Homo sapiens: one gene and its partners. The protein of the gene in region 3 interacts with the protein of the main gene of each other region in a pairwise test. Each region holds a gene or a part of one and is shown on either strand. Other genes may lie near its edges.

Evidence for each region. The genes of interacting proteins can lie anywhere in the genome.
Region 1: the proteins of SPATC1L (region 3) and PHF11 interact in binary tests that used the Homo sapiens proteins (3 or more experiments, as listed by UniProt).
Region 2: the proteins of SPATC1L (region 3) and ZBTB8B interact in binary tests that used the Homo sapiens proteins (3 or more experiments, as listed by UniProt).

The regions. Positions count from the first base shown.
Region 1 is NC_000013.11:49,492,124-49,498,964, forward strand, and holds the start of PHF11 (PHD finger protein 11), read left to right. Parts: upstream 1-3,829; 5' UTR 3,830-3,878; coding exon 3,879-3,972; exon of another isoform or gene 3,973-4,359; intron 4,360-4,932; exon of another isoform or gene 4,933-5,094; intron 5,095-6,841. UniProt on the Homo sapiens protein: Positive regulator of Th1-type cytokine gene expression.
Region 2 is NC_000001.11:32,460,950-32,468,083, forward strand, and holds the start of ZBTB8B (zinc finger and BTB domain-containing protein 8B), read left to right. Parts: upstream 1-4,122; 5' UTR 4,123-4,156; intron 4,157-7,134. UniProt on the Homo sapiens protein: May be involved in transcriptional regulation.
Region 3 is NC_000021.9:46,167,456-46,174,479, reverse strand, and holds part of SPATC1L (speriolin-like protein), read left to right. Parts: intron 1-5,821; coding exon 5,822-6,172; intron 6,173-7,024.

The DNA.
Region 1 (6,841 bases), on a different chromosome or scaffold from region 3:
ATTTATTTACAAATTATATATTAAGAGAAACAAATGTCATAACAGAACTCAGCTGTTTCTAATTGCTTTTGTGACTGTTACCTTTTAGTTCATGCCCCCCCAAAGAGCTAAATTTCACATTTTTACCTACAAAATTGATTTTTAATTCCTGGCAAATAATTTACCATTATGAGCTACAAGGTGGGCAACAGCGCCTGAGGATCTAATTTTATGCATATTACTCCCAAGTATTTTAACACTTGTTGGAGAAGCAATATCTGGATCGATAAAACACTGTCCCATCAACCATTTGAGTGGGGAGAGGGAGAAGCTCTTCTGTAAGTAAGATTCTGGCAAGCTCTTTGAAATGAGTCTTCTTTCCCACAGATTTTCTCTACTCTTTCTATACAAACAGATAGGAGAAGAGGGAATAGAAACCTGGAGGAACTTGAATATTTTTGTTCTAGATAGAGATACAGTTACTGAAAAGGAAACCTAGAAAGTAGTCACACGTTGCTTATTTAGGCCAGAAGTAATTGTACTGGGCAAAAATTTCACTTAAAAAACACAAGAAGTCCAGGTATGGTGGCTCAGACCTGTAATCCCAGCACTTTGAGAGGCCGAGGCAGGTGGATTACTTGAGCCTAGGGGTTCAAGACCAGCTTGGGCAACATGTCAAAACCCTGTCTCTACAAAAAATACAAAAATTAGCCTGGCATGATGGCATGTGCCCGTAGTCTCAGCTACTCAGGAGTGAGGTGGGAGGATCATTTGAGCTCAGAAGGTCAAGGCTGCAATGAGACATAATTTCACCATAGTACTTCCAGCCTGGGCAATAGAGCAAGACTCTCTCTCAAAAAAAACAGCACACACACACACACACGAAAACAATTCTGAACTATGAAATCTGAAACAGCCCCTTGGTATCTCCTGGGCATGATTTGCAAATCTTTTTTTTTTACAGAAAAAAGGCAAAGAGTAAGCACTTTGCCATAGGTTACTTGGCCGTGATCATCTATCTAGTGGAAAAGGGGACTGGGAAGCCCAAGCAGACTGGGAAACCAGACAGCTAGGAAAAGGAGCAAAACATAGCCCAGCAACCTACAGATGAAGAAAGTTGAGAAATCCATTTATTCACCATAGAGACGCAGGAATTTCAGGCAATGCACTAAAATGAAATGGGGGAAAAAAGCTTGATCAGTATGGGAACCATTTTTGTGCAAAAGGGAATATTATGGATCAGCCAGTATTTCTTTGAGCTCTGCCTGTGGAGTCCATTTGACCTTTAGAAATATGAGGTATTCTGTCAGTTTTATCTTCTTGGAGAAATTTCTCCTAAAATCTTGATTTGCTTTAGTCTGGACTGGTTCATAGCCATCATCTTCCATCAGTACCCCAGAGATTCACTTTGTCTCTTATGTGGGATCTGTTTCCAGTTAGATGCCATTATTTTCCTTTTCCTTGGTTTACTCTTCCACATATTGGTAAAGCTCTTCCAATAGCTTTTGGAAAGGAAAAATGAAAAGTAAATGTTTTGAATCTCTGTGTGTTTGACAATGTCTTTATTTTACCCTTATACCTGATTGCTGTTTTGGTTGGCAAGGTATAGGATTCTTTAGTGGTCTCCATGCCCAGTTTTGAAGACATCTGCTAGCTTTCAGTGCTGTTGCTGTGGAGTCTGAAAATCTGTCTTCTGGCTTCCAGGGTGACTACTGGAAATTGAATGCCATTCTGTTCCTTCTCTTTTGCATATATAATCCATTTTTATCTCTCTTGAAGCTTATAGGTTTATCTTTGTCTCAATGTTCTGTCCCTGTTAAGAGTCCATTTTCATCCTTTGTACTAGGTGCCTGGTGGGATCATTCCGTCTGAAACTAATGATTTCCCATCTCTTCACTGTTTCTGGAATTCCTGTTTTCCAGATGTTAGACCTCCAGAATTTGATCTCTAATTTTCCTATCTTTTCTCTTAACTTTCAGCTCTGTCTTCTTGCTAGGACCTTTTCCTAGGAGCATTTCTCAATTTAATCTTCCAGTTCATCTGTTGCATTTTATTTTTCTAGTCTCATATTGTCTCATATTTTTAATTTCTAAGAGCTCCCCTTCTCCGAATATTCTTTTTTTTTAATAGCATCCTATTTTGGCTCATGGTTGCAGTATTTTATCTCCTTGAAGATGTTTGTGTGTTTATGTATGTATATGCACACACGTATACATACACATACAGGCATGCATCTCTGTATTCTTTCGGCATAATCTGTGTCCTCCAGGGTTTGTTTCTTTGTTTCCCCTGTATGTTTGTTTTGGTCGTTCACATTATAGGCTTTCCTCAGAGTTAATGGTCTTGGTAGTCTACTCATATTTAAGTGTGGAACACCAAAAAGCTTACTATAAGCTGAGAGTGTGGTAAAGGGCTCTTTGTTTTACTATGACCTACCTGAGCTATCTTGCTGGGGAACACCCTAATGTCAGTCTCTTTATAAAGGGCCTTTCATTTTGGCCTGGCAAGAAATACTCTTTCATCCTCCTGCATGGAGGGCAAAAAAAAATTTAAAAATTGGCTGCTAGGGTCTGTCTGCTCACTTCCCTGTTTTGCAGACCCCACACTCTTCTGCAATTCATTTCATAGTTGTCAAGACTATACAAATTGTCCTTTTTAATGTTCTCTCTTCTGCTATCCCTAGTTGGCAGTCTTCCTCTTTACAACCTGCTGAAAGTGGAAGACCTCCAGTTTTCCTTTAATTCCTCAGCAAACCACCAACTATTATATGTCTTTTTTCCAGAACAACTTATTTTTTAACTATAATTATATGCATTTATGTTAGATTCACTGAAAACCTCATCTTGTATGGTGCTCTGTACCCTATGGGTGCTAAATAAAGGCTTGCTACTGGCAACTGGATTTAGGATCGGCTAATTCTGCGTCCTTTTAAGATATGCTTATTTAAGCCAAACTCGGTATGATAATTTTTTTTTTTTTTTTTTTTTTTTTGAGAGGGAGTCTGGCTCTGTCGCCTAGGCAGGAGTGCAGTGGCGCGATCTTGGCTCACTGCAACCCCCGCCTCCCGGGTTCAAGCGATTCTCCTGCCTCAGACTCCCGAGTAGCTGGGATTACAGGCGCCCGCCACCAAGCCCGGCTAATTTTTGTATTTTTAGTAGAGACGGGGTTTCACCATGTTGACCAGGCTGGTCTCGAACTCCTGACCTCGTGATTCGCCCACCTCGGCCTCCCAAAGTCCTGGAACTACAGGCGTGAGCCACCGCGCCCACCCGGCCAGTATGATAGTTTTTAGGAGGAACCCTCAGGAGAGTGATTGTTTCTCCCGCTGTGTTGTGGGGGGTGGAGTAGGGAAGCCTGGCGTTTGGGGTTTTTTTGTTTGTTTGTTTTTTGTGTGTGTTTGTTTGTTTGTTTGTTTTGAGACGGAGTCCCGCTCTGTAGCCCAGGCTGGAGTGTAGTGGCGCGATCTCGGCTCACTGCAAGCCCCGCCTCCCGATTCAAGCGATTCTCATGCCTCAGTGTCTGGAGTAGCTGGGATTACAGGCACCCGCCACCATGCCCAGCTAATTTTTGTATTTTTAGTAGAGACGGGGTTTCACCATGTTGGTTAGGCTGGTGTTGAACTCCTGACCTCGTGATCCGCCCTCCTCGGCCTCCCAAAGTGCTGGGATTACAGGCGTGAGCCACTGCTCCCGGCGTTTGGGTTTTTTAAGCTATTCAAATTAAGACTAGACTGGAATCTGGAGCAGTGTGTGTGACAACCCCTCTCTGCACACCCAACTTTCCCCGGGCCGGCTAGTGACTCAAAGCGACAGCCCAGATTTAAGAAAACGAAACCTAGTGCAGCTGGGGCACTTCCGGGATCTCGCTATCCGGCCGCCACCCGCAGCTGCAGCACAGTCATGGCCCAGGCGTCGCCGCCCCGGCCCGAGAGGGTGCTCGGCGCCAGCAGCCCGGAGGCCCGGCCCGCGCAGGAGGCGCTCCTCCTTCCCACCGGTGTGTACCGCGGGGGCGGGCGGGCGGGCGGGCGGGGCTGGGCAGCGACGGGCCCGGTCAAGGGGCCTGCCTTCCGGTCGTGGCCGCATGGGGGCCCGACCTGCCCCTACTCCGGGCCGGGGCCCTAGACGCCGGGGCGGCGCTGGACGAACTTGGCTCACCACTCGCGTGCCTGTTGGTGGGGGAGGGGGCCAGAGGACAGGGCGCGGCCCAGGCCAGTTCCACAGGTGGCTCTGACTGCCCATGGTTTCGCGCGAGTGGTGGGCACGCTTCGGTTTACCTCCCCCGCGGGTGACAGCCCAGTGCTTCCACCACAACCGATGTCAACTCTCCTAGCGCCCCTCCGCTCACCGGTAAACCAGGACAGTGGAGGGGCGCCCTGATGCGGTGAGGCAGGGGGCGGCCCTGAGGGAAGAGCTGGGTCTCACGTTCACGGAGGACGTGACTGGAACCCGTCTCCCCTTCTCCAGTCGTTCCAGTCCTCCCCGGCCCTCTACTTGAGTGGGTGGGTCTTCTGATGGGTTCCTGCCCTTGCGTGTGTGTATAGCTCCAAACGGTGTGCCAGGCTCAGGGCAAGGTCCTGAGCATACAAAGATGAGTTAGGCAGACCCTGCCCTAGAGACTCTACTAGGCAACTTTAATGAGGAGGTCAGAACCACAGAGGTACAGATGAGAGACTCCTGACTCCCAGTCTTCAGGGAAAGCTTTTTGAGGAGAGGATGGCTGGGCTTACCCTTTTTTTTTTTTTTTTTTTTTGAGAGGAGTTTCACTCTTGTTGCCCAGGCTGGAGTGCAAAGGCGCTATCTCGGCCCACTGCAACCTCTGCCTCCCGGGTTCAAGCGATTCTCCTGCCTCAGCCTCCCGAGTGGATGGGATTACAGGCATGTGCCACCACGCCCAGCTAATTTTGTATTTTTAGTAGAGAGGGTTTCTCCATGTTTCATGGGCTTACCTTTAAAGGGCAAGACTCAGCCAAAGGTGGAAAAGTTGAAGGGGTGTTCCCAGCAGAGAGGATGACACAAAGGCACCAAACCACAAAACGTCACACGTAAACATCATACGTGGCAACCACAAGCCAATCAGTTGGATATTTCATTCATTGGTATACATATGGACTGTAAGGTAAGTCACGGGAGATGCGCTTCCATCCTGACCTCTTCCTCAAACTCCAGACTGGTATAACCAACTTCTTCCATTTCTGAAATGATCTCAAACTGAGTATGTCCCAAAGAGAATTCTTGTTTCCTCCACTGTATTCAGGTACTCCAAACCTGCTCAACCACCAGCCCATTCCATTCGCCCAGGTGCTCCTTGCAAAAACCTTAGTGGCTCCTCAGGGCCTCTCTTTCCTCCGGACACCCCTTCTAATGCATCAGTCGGGCCAGCCAGTTCTGTGTTCAGCCTGACTGTATCTGGAGCCTGACTGCTTCTCACCACTTCCATTACTGCCACCCAAGCCTACGCCATCATGATCTTCTGTCTGGACTATTGCTTTCCTGGCTTCTATTCTAGCCTTTAATACAGGCAGGCCTGCAGAGCGGCCAAAATGCTTTTTGAAAAACAAAAAGCAAATGTGATTCTCCTACTCAAAACCCACCAATAGTCTCCCATGACTCTCAGAACAATCTATGAGCCTGGCCTGCAGTTTACCCCATGTCCTTATCTGATTTGACTCCTGCCCATCTTAATGACTCTGCTACCCTGCTACCTTGTAGGTCCTCTAAGCCACCAAAGCTGTCCCTGCCTCAGGATCTTTCCATTTGCTATTCTCTGCAAGGAAAACTCATTGCCACATTATCCCATTTTCAGTTCCCCATCATATTCAGGTGTCTGCTCATATACATCTTCCCTCAACCTTGCCTGCCCATCCTGTCTAAAAGAGCACCCCTTGCCCCTGCTCCTGTCACTCTCTACCTCCTTCTGCTCTATTCTTTCTCTATAGTACTTATCACTACCTGGAAAACAAAACAAAACTTGTTTAATGCCTGTCTCTACCACTGGCCACTGGCATGTAAATTCGTCTTACTCTCTTCTATCCTTAGTGCCTAGACTGGTTGGCCTAGTAGTAGTAGTAGGACATAGTAGGTACTCATTAAATATTAAATAATAGTAAGTCCTCATTAAATATTTGTTGAAGGAATGAATGTACTTGTATATAACACTACGGAGCTTGACTTCTGTAGGTGATGGGGAAATATGAGCAGATGTCCATTTCAGGTAGATCATTCTGACAGTAACATAGTACATTTCCGGTAGATCATTCTGACAGTAACCTAGCACATTTCTGGTAAATCATTCTGACAGTAACCTAGTACATTTCCGGTAGATCATTCTGACAGTAACCTAGTACATTTCCAGTAGATCATTCTGACAGTAACCTAGTACATTTCAGATAGATCATTCTGACTGTAACCTAGTACATTTCCGTTAGATCATTCTGACAGTGACCTGGTACATTTCAGGTAGATCATTCTGACAGTAACCTAGTACATTTCAGGTAGATCATTCTGACAGTAGCATAGTGCATTTCAGGTAGATCATTCTGACAGTAACGTAATACATTTCAGATAGATCATTCTGACAGTAATATAAAGAATGCAGTGGGATCATGACAGGGAAAATAGAGACAAGGACAAGAGATCACTGGAATAGACTAGGTGAAAGACCCTGAGGGTAAGGCAGTCCACCTTCCACACCGCTGCCAGCACTGTCTTTCTCTTAAACACACATGGGCACACACACATATAAACATGTGAGTGCACACACACAGATCAAGTAAGTCATGGTCCTTCCAGTGTTAATAAGCACGTACTGGCTGCAAGTACTACAAAAACAATTTGATGTAATTTAAGCATGAGGGATGCTTAGT
Region 2 (7,134 bases), on a different chromosome or scaffold from region 3:
TCCCAAGTAGCTGGGATTACAGTCGTATGCTACCACACCCAGCTAATTTTTGTATTTTTATTTTTATTTACTTATTATTTTGAGATGGAGTCTTGCTCTGTTGCCCAGGGTGGAGTGCAGTGGCAGCATCTCTGCTCACTGTAACCTCTGCCTCCTGGGTTCAAGCGATTCTCGTGCCTCAGCCTCCCGAATAGCTGGGACTACAAGTGCGTGCTACCATGCCTGGCTAATTTTTTTGTATTTTTATTAGAGAGGCGTTTCATGTTGGCCAGGCTGGTCTCAAACTCCTGACCTCAGGTGATCCACCTTCCTTGGTCTCCCAAAGTGCTGGGATTGCAAGCGTGAGCCACTGCGCCTAGCCTAATTTTTGTATTTTTAGTGGGGGGTGGTTTTGCGATGTTGGTCAGGCTAGTCTCGAACTACTGACCTCAGGTGATCCACCTGCCTCGTTCTCCTAGTGCTGGGATTATAGGCGTAAGCCACTGCACCCAGCCAGCAATTTTTAATTCTCTATTTTTTGCTCTGGAGGTCCTAAGTTTTAGATTCAGTGACACATTGCTGTGCCATTCATGCTGCTGGGTACTGTCGATTAGCAGTCAGCATCCATTCCCATCTCCTTCTAGTGTCCCTTCCTATGCTGCAGAATCTGGAGAGTTAAAATGTCATGGCCAGGATTTGGAAATGAAGTGGAGGCCACCCGCCTGCTGCTTGCTGCTGAAGTGTGGCAGCAAAGGTATGAGGTGTGTCTGCAGCAGGGTTGCAGGGTCCAGTCACTAGCCATGTAGGGGTCGAGAGCCTGTTTCAGGGGCAGCAATAGTGATGGTGACTTCCAATCCCTTAATCACAGCCACAACAGTGTGTTGTTGAGCTTAACAGGTACAGTGGTGATGTCCTGATTTCTTACCTTCCTGATTGCAGCAAAAATGGGTAGCTACCCTGTTGGGACAGTTTGGAGTCATCCCTGCAGAGTCATTCTCTAGCCTCCCTGATAATTTGTATTACTTAATTCCTTATATGAATTCTTTTCTGTTTAAACTAGCCAGGTTGCTTTTTGCTTAAACTAGCCAGGTTGGTTTTAACTGAACCTTGAAAAATATACTGAAGTTCAGAGCATCTAACACTAAAGGTTGTGCTGGTCTTGGTGGCGAGAGTAAGTCCCACAGCAGACCACAACAGATCTAGAGATCATAAGGCCTCTAACATTTCCTATGCCTAGTTGTCAGGGGCATGTCCTATGCAGGCCACCCCAAAAAGCCCTTTTACGTTAGCAGTCTGGAATGTTACTAGGTCATCCAGTACAGGTTGCGTGTGCCATAGTCATAAAATTTGGGACCTGAAACTTGGAGCCTGGATGCAGGAGATGTGGAATGAATACTAGGGTGAGTTCCAGGTACAGTCATAATTAAGGTGAAGGCATCAGTGACATGACTTCCCAGGTAAGAAGATACAAAAGGCTGAGCCCAGAGAAGCTTGGTGCTCCTCACTTCTGATGCTTTCTCTGCTGCTATGATGATCAAAAGTCCTCAGCACCTGAGCTGGCCTTTGGGAACCAGGTGGCAAGGACAGCCACACTAACAGGAAAGATGTAACTGCTGCTGTCCCTCTCTGGGTATCCAGCTTTACAAGAAATAGGTAAACTACTTTTCTTTGATAGATAGTATAGTGGTGTTTGGCTGACATTTTACCTTCTAAAATTATTAAGTTATCTTTAGAGTGAACTGCAATTACATTTTTGACAAGCTCTAAAATATATCCTAAACAAACCCCTCCATCTCTACCACCTCTACCCTATCCCCAGTTATCAGCATCTATCAGCAGGGGAGAGATCATATCTTATCTCTTCCCTGCTTAAGATCCTTCGAAGGTGTCCCTTCACATTCATAAGAAAAAATCCAAACTCCTTAAGGTGGCCTACAAATTCCTACATAATCTGGCCTTTGCTTCTCTATCCATTCATATTTCCTGTCGCTTGGACTGGCTACATAATTTGTGGGGCCCAATGCAAAATGAAAATGCAGAGCTCCTTGTTCAAAAACTACTAAGAATTTTAAGAGGGCAATGGCAGAGCATTAAACCAGGCATCAGCCCTTTCCTTTTTTTTAATTTTTAAAATATTTATTTAGATTTTCTTTTTGTTAGTAATTAAATCTTTCTTCTTCTTCTTCTTCTCCTCCTCCTCCTTCTCCTTCCTCTCCTTCCTCTTCCTCTTCTTCTTCTTCCCTCTTCCCTCTCTCCTCCTCCTCGTCCTCCTCCTCCTTGAAACAGTGCAGTGGCACAATCTCAGCTCACTGCAACCTCCACTTTCCATGTTCAAGTGATTCTCATGCCTCAGCCTCCCGAGTAGCTGGGATTACAGGTATGTGTCACCATGCCCAGCTAATTTTTGTATTTTTAGTAGACACTGGGTTTTGCCATGTTGGCCAGGCTGGTCTCAAGTGATCCGCCCGCCTCAGCCTCCCAAAGTGCTGGGATTACAGGTGTAAGCCACCGCACCTGGCTCTTTTTTTGTTTTGTTTTGTTAAGTATAAAACCTCACCTGGAAGCACCAGCCCTTTCTGAGTGTGCGGGCCTGTGCCACTGCGTGGGTTGCACGTCCATTAAGCTGGTCTACCTGCCATCCACTTCCTCAACCCAATGGCATTCTCCTGTTTCTTAGATATGTACCAACCGGTTTTCTGTTTTATCTTAGCATGGCTCACTACTCCTCATTAGGGTCTCTCAGCGAAGGGGGTAGCCTTTTTTTTTTTTTTTTTTTTTTTTGAGACAGAGTCTTGCTCTGCTGCCCAGGCTGGAGTGCAGTGGCCAGATCTCCACTCACTGCAATCTCTTTGGTTCAAGCATTCTCCTGCCTCAGCCTCCCAAGTAGCTGGGATTACTGGCCCACGCCCGGCTAATTTTTGTATTTTTAGTAGAGATGGGGTTTCACCATGTTGGCCAGGCTGGTCTCGGACTCCTGACCTCAGGTGATCCACCCGCCACCACTCCAGCCTGGGCAACAGAGTCTGAGACTCCGTCTCAAAAAAAAAAAAAAAAAAAAAAAAAAAGTCATACTGGCATAGAGTGAACCCCTAATCCAATATGACTGGTATCCTTATAAAAATACTTTTTTTTTGGAGACGGAGTCTCTCTCTGTCGCCCCAGGCTGGAGTGCAGTGGCGCGATCTCGACTCACTGCAACCAAAAGGAGACATTTTGACATGGAGACATATACAGGGAATATGCCCTGTGAACATGAAGATGGCCATATGCAAGCCCAGGAGAGAAGCCTGGAAGAGACCGTTTCCTCACAGCGCTCAGAAGGAAAGAACCCTGCCAACATCTTGCTTTCAGATGCCCCCAGGATTGTCAGACAATAAGATCTGTTATTGACGCCACCGGGTTGGTGATACTTAGGTACAGCAGCCCTAGCAAACGAATACACCCCCATGAGAACTAAGCTCCCTGAGAGCGGTAAGCTGCCTTGTCTTGCTCACAGCTGACAAGAACACGCCTGTACGGTCACTTAGCACCTAGTACTGCCATTTAACCGTTTCACTAGTATGTATGAACCGGAGAGCCTGTCAAGGGAAGAGCTGAATCTTTTATCTTTTGTAACGACTACCCAGTGAAAGAAACCGCGGGTATGCAATAAAAACCTGTTGAATCGATTAAACCATTTCCCTTATTTCCAGATTTTTGCGGAAAGCGCCAGTAGGTGAAATATGTGCGGACTGATGAGTCAAAGCTCTTATTCCCTGGACTGCATTAATACCCACGACGTGCTTTTCGCTCTCCAGACAAAGAGACCGGTACTTGGCAGGTCCCTCAAGTGGGACTCAAAAGACCGAACCGAGCTGCAGCCTTTCGCTAGCACTGGTCCTCGCCCCTTTTGGCATCTTGGTACTTGTAGTTTTGTCCACTCTATCTTTACCCGAAAAGCCAGCGCTGAGACCACAACTCCCATCACCCTGCGAGCACCAGCGCCTTCAGAGCGCATCCTCCGAGGGGCACCAGCGCCATTGACCACCCTGCTGGCCGAAGGGCCCGCCTTCCCGAGGCCAGGCGCTCCCGCGATTGGCCAGCCGCCCCGCCTCTCATCGGAGGGCGCCAGGTGAATGAAAGGGGGGCGTGTCGGTGCGCGGTGCTCCGTGGCTGCGCTGCTGGAACCCGCTGGAAGGTGAGCGCGAAGAAGCGGGTTGGCGCTGCCGCTTTCGTTGGTTTGGGGAGGATTCCTAGCACCCGGGAGGCTGGCTGGAGATTGGGGTTAGCGGGCAGGGTTGCCCCCACTCAGTCATCCTCCTTCGGACCGCTTGGCCCTGGCAACTCCTGGGACCTCCGCCCCGCGAGCCCTTCTAGCGTGGGGAGGGGCAGGCGCGGCCGTGGGGCCCCAGCTTCCCTGTCATTGGGTGTCCTCCGCGTCGTCCAGCCGGGGGTCGCGGCGCCGACTACTTCCACGGTGAATGGTGCCCAGGCGTGGGGGGCTCGGCCACACTGGAGAAGTGCCAGCGGCAGCGATGGCCACTTTGTCCGCGGGAGGCCATGGGAGGGGCTAGGCCTTGGGGTCCCACCCTCGGGGGCCGTGCCCTGTAGCTGGTTCTGGTGGCCTCTCTGCAGGTCGTCTGATGCTGGACGGGGGAGGGTCTGTCTTGCGAGCAGTTTAGATGCAGTTGACCCTGAAATTCTTCGTATGGAAATGGAAACTTCTCCAGTGTCCTTCTCCTCCGATCCATGCCTAAAAGAAAGGAGTGACTTCCCCAACCTGTCGCATCGTGTCCTGGAGGGTTTGAGGAGGCCGGTTAGCATAGTGGTTAAGGATGTCAACCCGGGAGTCAGTCGGATCTCTGTTCTATTACTAACTTGGTGATGTTATCTGCATCTTTGAATCTCAGTTCCTCCTCTGAAAAAGAGGATGTAGTTAGAGTATCTGTCGTACTGGATTATTGTGAGGTGAAAACTAATGTGCTTGTAAAAGCCAGGCATGGTGGCGCGCACCTGTAGTCCCTGCTACTCGGGAAGCTAAGGTTGGGAGGATCTCTTGAGCCCAGGAGTTCCAGGCTGCATTGAGGTAGGATCGTGCACTCCAACCTGGGCAACCGAGCAAGACCGTGCCTTTTAAAAATTTTAATTTAAAAAGTAAAATGAATATGCTTGTACTTTGTACAGTGTTTTATAAGGAATAGTGCTTAATATTTACTAAAATTGAGGAGCAGGTTTTTGTTATTCTCAGGTTGGTGGGACTGGAGGAGTCTTGTCAGAAAGGGTCGGAGGTGGAATTCAAGGCTGCTTTTGGCCTCTGAACAGAGACAGTTGTGTGATCTGGCTAGGACTCCCTCAAGGGTATATGAGAGTTTGTATTGCAGGTAGTTGTGTTGGCATCTGCTGTCTCCTGGAGGACAGGCACTATACTTGGTTCATTTTTCTATTCCTGGCATCTTCCTTGTGTCAGGCATTGTATGTAGCCGGTAACCGTTGAATTGAGTTGGAACCGTGGGATGGTTGGGAGGTTCCCTGCCAGAGTGCGGATAAATGTGCTTCTGAGAGCAGTCTGCCCTAAGAGCTGCTCTTCTGGGATAAGTGGTGATCCTCAGCACTTCCCGGGGCAGCAGAGCACTTCAGGCAAATGGGGGTGATATAAATAAATATTTACACAATATATACCAAGTACAGGATTGGGGAAAATTTTGAAGAAAATACTATACGGATAGACTTTTGCAACGTCAGGAAGTAGAATAAAAATAATTGCAATAGAATAAAAAATAATTTCAGTAAGAAAGCCAAAAGAAATTGGTTTTAGGTGCTATTTCTGGAAAGGAGGCTTTTCCAGTGAAAGACGGAAGTGCCCTGGGAAGAGCCCCTATAGATCAGACCATACTACAAGTTAAGAAGTGTTGTGCGTACTTACATATTTATCTACCTGGCTTACCAACTCCTTACCCCTCTGCCCTGCCTCCTTTTTTTCTTAGTTAACAAAGAAAAAAGCCAAGGCAGAAGGATCACTTGAGTCCAGGAGTTCAAGACCATTGAGACCAGCCAGGGCAACATAGTGAGACCCCATCTCTACAAAAAAATGTTTTCAGAATTAGCTGAGTGTGGTGCTGCATGCCTGTAGTCACAGCTACTTGGGAGGCTGAGGTAGGAGGATTGCTTGAGCCTGGGAGGTCGAGGCGGCAGTGAACTGTGATCATGGACTGCACTCCAGCCTGGGTAACAAAGTAAGACCCCGTCTCAAAAGAAAAGAAAAGCAATACATGCACATAGTAAAACATTCTATCAGAAAGGTTTAAAATGAAAGGCGAAAGTCCCTCCACACACTTGTTTTTTTTTTTTTTTTTGAGATGGAGTCTCGCACTATCGCCCAGGCTGGAGTGCAGTGGCACAATCTCTGCTCACTGCAGCCTCCGCCTCCACCGCCTCCTGGGTTCAAGTGATTCTCCTGCCTCAGCCTCCCGAGTAGCTGGGATTACAGGTGCCCGCCACCATGCCCAGCTAATTTTTTTGTATTTTTAGTAGAGACGGGGTTTCACTACGTTGGCCAGGCTGGTCTCGAACTCCTGACCCCAGGTGATCTACCCACCTTGGCCTCCCAAAGTGCTGGGATTACAAGTGTGAGCCACCACACCCGGCCCCAAGTGGATTTTAAACTTGGTTTATAGTTTATCTACTAAGCAGTTAAGAAATGAATATTCCTTTTTTGCTTAACAAATCTATTTTGTCCAAAGCACTCTGCCAGATACTGTAAGGGATATAAAATTGAATAAGACATGGCTCATGCTTTCAAAGGGCTTGTAGTTCATTGACAGAGAAGGGCCAGGACATAAATAATAAACAGGAGTTAACCAAGGGTAGTGGAATCAGTCAGTTAGGAGTCTCCCAGTTGCATGAAATAGAAAACCCAACTCAGAGGCCAGGTGTGGTGTCTCACACCTGTAACCCCAGCACTTTAGGAGGCTGAGGGGGGCAGATCACTTGAGGCCAGGAGTTCGAGACCAGCCTGGGCAACATGGCAAAACCCTGTCTCTACCAAAAGTACAAAAAAAATTAGCCTGGCGTGGGGGTGGGTACCTGTAGTCCCAGCTACTCGGGAGGCTGAGGTAGGATGATTACTTTAGCCAGGGAGGCGGAGGTCAGAGTGGGCCGAGATCACACCACTGCACT
Region 3 (7,024 bases):
CTTGGTAGATTTTTCTCCATGCCTTTATTTTGAGCCTATTTGTGTTATTGCATGTGAGATGGGTCTCTTGAAGACAGCATACCAATGGGTCTTGGTTCTTTATCTAGCTTGCCATTCTGTTTTTTTTTTTTTTTTGTTTTGTTTTTTGAGACAGAGTCTTGCTCTGTCTCCCAGGCAGGCTGGAGTGCAGTAGCACAATCTCGGCTCACTGCAACCTCTGCCTCCTAGGTTCAAGTGATTCTCCTGCCTCAGCCTCCCAAGTAGCTGGAATTATAGGCACCCAACACCATGCCTGGCTAATTTTTCTATTTTTTAGTAGAGATGGGTTTTCATCATGTTGGCCAGGCTGGTCTTGAACTCCTGGCCTCAAGTGATTCACCTGCTTCAGCCTCTCAAAGTGCTGGGATTACAGACATGAGCCACCATGCCTGGTCTGTTTGATGACCTTGAGGTTTTGATTGTGGTATAAGGTGGATTCAGCCAACTGGCTTCATTTATGGAATATTTAAGGGGCCAGTGCCCAGCTGCCAACTCCTGGACTCTGCATGCTCTAGCTCTGGGGGACTTGTTTTGGGCCCTGACTTTGTTCTCTGGCTCCTTGAGGTTTGGAATCCACTGCACTGGGGGGCTGAGGTACTGCAGCTACAGCAGAGTGGCTGGCAGATGCAGAGTGCCTGCCTTCCTGTGGGGGTTCACCACAGTGGTGGAGGCAAAGCAGCTGGGGTGGGGATGGGGGGCTCCTGTTGGAGACTGTGTGCAGTTACTCTGGAGGTACTATAGGCATGGGTGGGGTGCTGGTTGGCACAGGTCTAGGTGCCTTTTCTGTGCCCTGCAAGCAGGAGTGATCGCTCAGGGTGGGGGAGGATCCACTGTTCTCTGCTCAGTGTTAGGTCAAAGGCAGGGTTCTGGCGGGTATGGGGCTTGCTGGCTCTGTGTCTGCCAAGGCTTCACCTGCAATGGAAGTCTGTAGGGAAAGGGGAGGCCCACTGGACTCCTGCATGCTGGTGGGGGAAGGAAATCAAAACCCACCTGTGCAGACATCAGCAGAGTGATGTGGGGAGTTGCCTGGGCCCAGGGGAAGCTACAATATGAGGAGGGAGCAGGCAGGCTGGTGTGTGGCCGTCGGGGCTGTCTCACTGGAGCTCTCCACTGGCCAGGCACAGTCTGCTGGCACAGAAGCTATGGTGAAGACCCCCAGGGCACCCAAGACTGCCCTGCAAGCAGGCATGGCCAGGCTGGGGCCCCAGGAGAGGCCAGCAGACGAAGGGGTGCTCAGGTTGGACTGGTCCCATCTGATGGGTAAGACCACCCTGCAGAGAACAGGTCTGACAGTTCCCCTAGGTCCAAAGTCTCCTGTGGGAGCAAATCAAGCCTGGGGGACGGCCGTCCCTGGCTGTGTTCCTGCACCAGACCCTCTGGGTTCTGCTTCAGCTGGCTGCTGCCCCCATCACTTCTCTAAGCAGCTCTCCCTGCCAACTAGAGTGTCCATGGTGGGCAAGGGGTCTCCCCCAGCTGGGGTTCCAGAGGCCCATGGCAACAGTGGGTTGCTCCTTGCCCGTTTAACTCCCCCATTTCCCCAGAGCTGTTGTGGGTCCAAAAATGAGCACCAGTGCTCAGTAGTCCCAGGCAGGTTCCCAGCTTTCTCCCCTTCAGCCCAGCTTCTGTGTGCTCCCTCCATCTGCCCTCAGCACCTTCCCTCTGAAGATGTGTTAGAAGCTCACCAGTCATCTCAGGCCCTCCGTGGGAGCTGTATCATCTGGCTGCATCTGGCCGGCCATCCCGCCCTTCCAATCCACATGAACTTCTTATTTCTGTCTTTGTCCTTATTACTCAGAACTCGGGCCTTGGCCTTGACTTTCATGGGGCCTCCTCCAGGGAAGGTGAGAGAGGGTTTTGGCCGCATCCTGGTCCTCCTGACCAGCTGTGGGAAGGACCAACGGTCCCATCTGCCCAGAGGAGGGAGGTTTGCACAGGCTGGATGCTGTGGAAGAGTCCTTCCTGTTCTTATTTTTGGAAAACAGAAAATTTGAGAAATGGCTCATCTTGTTCGGTGTTTGTGAGCCTATCTCTGTACCAGTGGAGGTATCTCAGCTTCTTGCCAGGGACCGTATCTGGTATCTTGCTACGCTGCACAGCCACTGGGTTCTGCACACCCTGCCTCTTGCTCTCCACCCCACCGCCTCGTGCTCTGCACACACCCCTGCCTCATGCTCTCCACCCCCATCTTGTGCTCTGCACACCTCCCCGCTTTGTGCTCTGCACAACCCCCGCCTCACGCTCTGTGCATCCTCCGCCTCACGCTCTGTGCATCCCCCGCCTCACGCTCTTTGCATCCCCCACCTCACACTCTGTGCATCCCCCGCCTCATGCTCTGCACTCCTGCCTCATGCTCTGTGCATCCCCCGCCTCATGCTCTGCACTCCTGCCTCATGCTCTGTGCACACTCCTGCCTCGTGCTGTGTGTTCTTGATCATGTTTGGATGAGACTTTGTGCAATTATTTTTGGCCTGGCCATGGTTTTTTTTTTTTTTTTTTTTTTTCTGGGGGTTATCTTTGTAGGAATTTGACATCAGAGTTGTGACAAATTTTGAAACCTAATTGAGCATCTTTTAACCTGTTCTACGGTTCCAGCCTCATTTGTATGATGTCGGGATTATGACTTGTTTGGGAACTTGGCACACTCACCCACAGACCATCCAGGCCTGCAGCCCTCTGGGGAATAATCATTTCATAACTTTTAGATTTTCCTTCTTTGTGTATTGGTTCATTTAGGTTTTCTACTTCTTATTGAGTCACTTGAAAGTAATTTTCCAGGCTATCTCCTTTTATTGAAATTTTAATTAATACATAATTGTACATAATATTCTTTTATAATTTGAAAAGTGTCTGGGGTGGGGGGTCTGTGAAGCCTGAGGACTCCAGGCCTCCCACGTGGCAGGAGGCCGGGCACACGCTGATGACTTTGCTTCTTTCGAACTTTTTTTCCTTGGAAAACATTTCAGAGGGAAGATTAGTTGGTTCCTTTGTAGGCACATTTTTTTTTTTTTTTTTGAGATGGATTCTTGCTCTGTCGCCCAGGCTGGATTGCAGTGGCACGATCTTGGCTCACTGCAAGCTCCAGTAGGCACATTTTAAGGTATAATTTTTTGATATGGCTCCGAACACTTTCTCTAATATGTATTTGCTTTATTGCTAGGAGAATACACATGACATGGAGGTAGAATAGAATTTCATAAGCCATAAAGGCATAGATAAGCTAAATTTGGCCAGGGATTGGGGAAATGCCACATGACCTCATCAGCCTGGTTGGGGAATATTCAGTCCTCATGAGGGTGTGGGGCCAGGAGGTGTTGGTGGGCATGGACCCTCCCCCTTGGTGTGGAAAGCAAAGAAAGTGAACACACCTGAGCCCAGCGTCAGACCACAGAGGATGTTCACAGAGCAGGAGGCTCCTCCCCATCCACAAAGGATGTTCACAGAGCAGGAGGCTCCTCCCCATCCACAGAGGATGTTTACAGAGCAGGGAAGCTCCTCCCCATCCACAGAGGATGTTCACAGAGCAGGAGGCTCCTCCCCATCCACAGAGGATGTTCACAGAGCAGGGAGGCTCCTCCCCATCCACAGAGGATGCTCACAGAGCAGGGAGGCTCCTCCCCATCCACAGAGGATGTTCAGAGAGCAGAGGGCTCCTCCCCATCCACAGAGGATGTTCACAGAGCAGGAGGCTCCTCCTGGACCACAGAGGATGCTCACAGAGCAGGAGGCTCCTCCCCATCCACAGAGGATGTTCACAGAGCAGGGAGGCTCCTCCCCATCCACAGAGGATGTTCACAGAGCAGGGAAGCTCCTCCCCATCCACAGAGGATGTTCACAGAGCAGGAGGCTCCTCCTGGACCACAGAGGATGCTCACAGAGCAGGAGGCTCCTCCACATCCACAGAGGATGTTCACAGAGCAGGAGGCTCCTCCTGGACCACAGAGGATGCTCACAGAGCAGGAGGCTCCTCCCCATCCACAGAGGATGCTCACAGAGCAGGGAGGCTCCTCCCCATCCACAGAGGATGTTCACAGAGCAGGAGGCTCCTCCTGGACCACAGAGGATGCTCACAGAGCAGGAGGCTCCTCCCCATCCACAGAGGATGCTCACAGAGCAGGGAGGCTCCTCCCCATCCACAGAGGATGCTCACAGAGCAGGAGGCTCCTCCCCATCCACAGAGGATGCTCACAGAGCAGGGGGCTCCTCCCCATCCACAGAGGATGTTCACAGAGCAGGGGGCTCCTCCCCATCCACAGAGGATGCTCACAGAGCAGGAGGCTCCTCCCCATCCACAGAGGATGCTCACAGAGCAGGGGCTCCTCCCCATCCACAGAGGATGCTCACAAAGCAGGAGGCTCCTCCCCATCCACAGAGGATGCTCACAGAGCAGAGGCTCCTCCCCATCCACAGAGGATGCTCACAGAGCAGGGGCTCCTCCCCATCCACAGAGGATGCTCACAGAGCAGGGGGCTCCTCCCCATCCACAGAGGATGTTCACAGAGCAGGGGGCTCCTCCCCATCCACAGAGGATGCTCACAGAGCAGGGGCTCCTCCCCATCCACAGAGGATGCTCACAGAGCAGGGGGCTCCTCCCCATCCACAGAGGATGCTCACAGAGCAGGGGCTCCTCCCCATCCACAGAGGATGCTCACAGAGCAGGGGGCTCCTCCCCATCCACAGAGGATGTTCACAGAGCAGGGGGCTCCTCCCCATCCACAGAGGATGCTCACAGAGCAGGGGCTCCTCCCCATCCACAGAGGATGCTCACAGAGCAGGGGGCTCCTCCCCATCCACAGAGGATGCTCACAGAGCAGGGGCTCCTCCCCATCCACAGAGGATGCTCACAGAGCAGGGGGCTCCTCCCCATCCACAGAGGATGTACACAGAGCAGGAGGCTCCTCCCCATCCACAGAGGATGCTCACAGAGCAGGGGGCTCCTCCCCATCCACAGAGGATGCTCACAGAGCAGGAGGCTCCTCCCCATCCACAGAGGATGCTCACAGAGCAGGGGCTCCTCCCCATCCACAGAGGATGCTCACAGAGCAGGGGCTCCTCCCCATCCACAGAGGATGCTCACAGAGCAGGGGGCTCCTCCCCATCCACAGAGGATGCTCACAGAGCAGGAGGCTCCTCCCCATCCACAGAGGATGTTCACAGAGCAGGGGGCTCCTCCTCATCCACAGAGGATGCTCACAGAGCAGAAGGCTCCTCCCGGGAGGCCAATTACAGCTGTGTGTTTGCACGGAAACATGGAAACAGGCCCTGTCCATCAATAGGGCAAGGGTTAAAAATTCAGTGTGTGTGTCTGTATGTGTGCTCATGTGTACAGAGTTGCCAGGAAACAGTTAAATGAACCAGGTAGCTACCAGATGGCTCAGGGTGGATAAATCTCAAAGAGATAATGCAGCAGCAAAAAGTTCAGTTGCAGAATAAAATGTGTAGGGTGCTACCATTTATGTACAACTTAAGCATATAAAAGTCATTCTCCAGTGTGTGTGGGCACACAGGCAGGCAGGAGGCACACGGAGGCCTGCCCGCTTGCTGTGCCCATAGACGCAGTGCTCCCACGGGCAGGATGGGCACCTGTGGCCACTTCACCACATCCAGCTCCTCCTTTTACACTTGAGGCCTGAGGGGAAGGAGGATGCTCTGAAGCCAGGGAAACCCCGGCAGGTGTTGAAGCTTGGGGTGGGGTGCATAGGGGTTGTTAACATGTTCTTTATACTTCCCAGGAATGTTTTAGGAGCATCAGCCTGATTTCTCATCCCTTTCCTCCCCGCCTCAGTTCCAGATTTCGGAAGGTTCACGAGTGTTGCCGACACGCCCTCCCAACTGCAGACATCCTCCCTGGAGGACCTGCTGTGCTCACATGCCCCCCTGTCCAGCGAGGACGACACCTCCCCGGGCTGTGCAGCCCCCTCCCAGGCACCCTTCAAGGCCTTCCTCAGTCCCCCAGAGCCACATAGCCACCGAGGCACCGACAGGAAGCTGTCCCCGCTCCTGAGCCCCTTGCAAGACTCACTGGTGGACAAGACCCTGCTGGAGCCCAGGGAGATGGTCCGGCCTAAGAAGGTGTGTTTCTCGGAGAGCAGCCTGCCCACCGGGGACAGGACCAGGAGGAGCTACTACCTCAATGGTATGGCCGGGTGCGGGGGCACCTGGGGGGGCCCCCAGTGCAGGCTGGCAGCTGTGGGGAGGGCATGACTGGGTGGTCAGGCAGGGCCGTTTCTCCATCCAGTCACACAGAGTGGAGGGAGGAGAGCCAGGCTGGGAGGCTGGGGTCCAAGGCTGTGTCTGTCCTAGTCTTTTGTCCATCTTTAAAGATAAAATGGGTTGCTTATCTTCTTCTTGGGAAGTTGTGAGAGTTCTTTATGTGTCTGGATATGAGTCCTTTTTTGGGTGTATGTTTTGCAGATACGGTCTCCCACTCCATGGTTTTTCATTTTCATAATAATGTTTTTTGATGAGCAAAACTGTTTAATTTGATGATGTCCAATTTATTGATTTTTCTTTTGTATTTTATGCTTTTTATGTTCAGTTTAAGAAATCTTTGCCAAGCCCAAGGTCACACAGATTCTCTCCTGTGTGTTGTTCTAGAAGTTTTATAGTTTAGGTTTTACATGTAGGTCTCTGATCAATTCCAAGTTAATTTTCATATATGGTGTGAGGTTTGCATGTAGATATCCACCTGAGGCTCAGGCCAGCCTCCCACCTCAGCCTCCCAGGTATCTGGGACTACAGGTGTATGCCACCAGGCCTGGCTAATTTTTTGGTTTTTGTGTTTTTGTTATTGTAGAGATGGGATTTTGCTACGATGCCCAGGCTGGTCTTGACCTCCCGGGCTGAAGCAATTCGCCTGCCTCGGCCTCCCAAAATGCTGGGATTACAGGCATGAGCCACCATGCCTGGCCTGTCAATTTTATTTATCTTTTCAAATAACCGATTTTTTGTTACATTGATCTGTTGTATTGTTTTCTTCATTTAAATT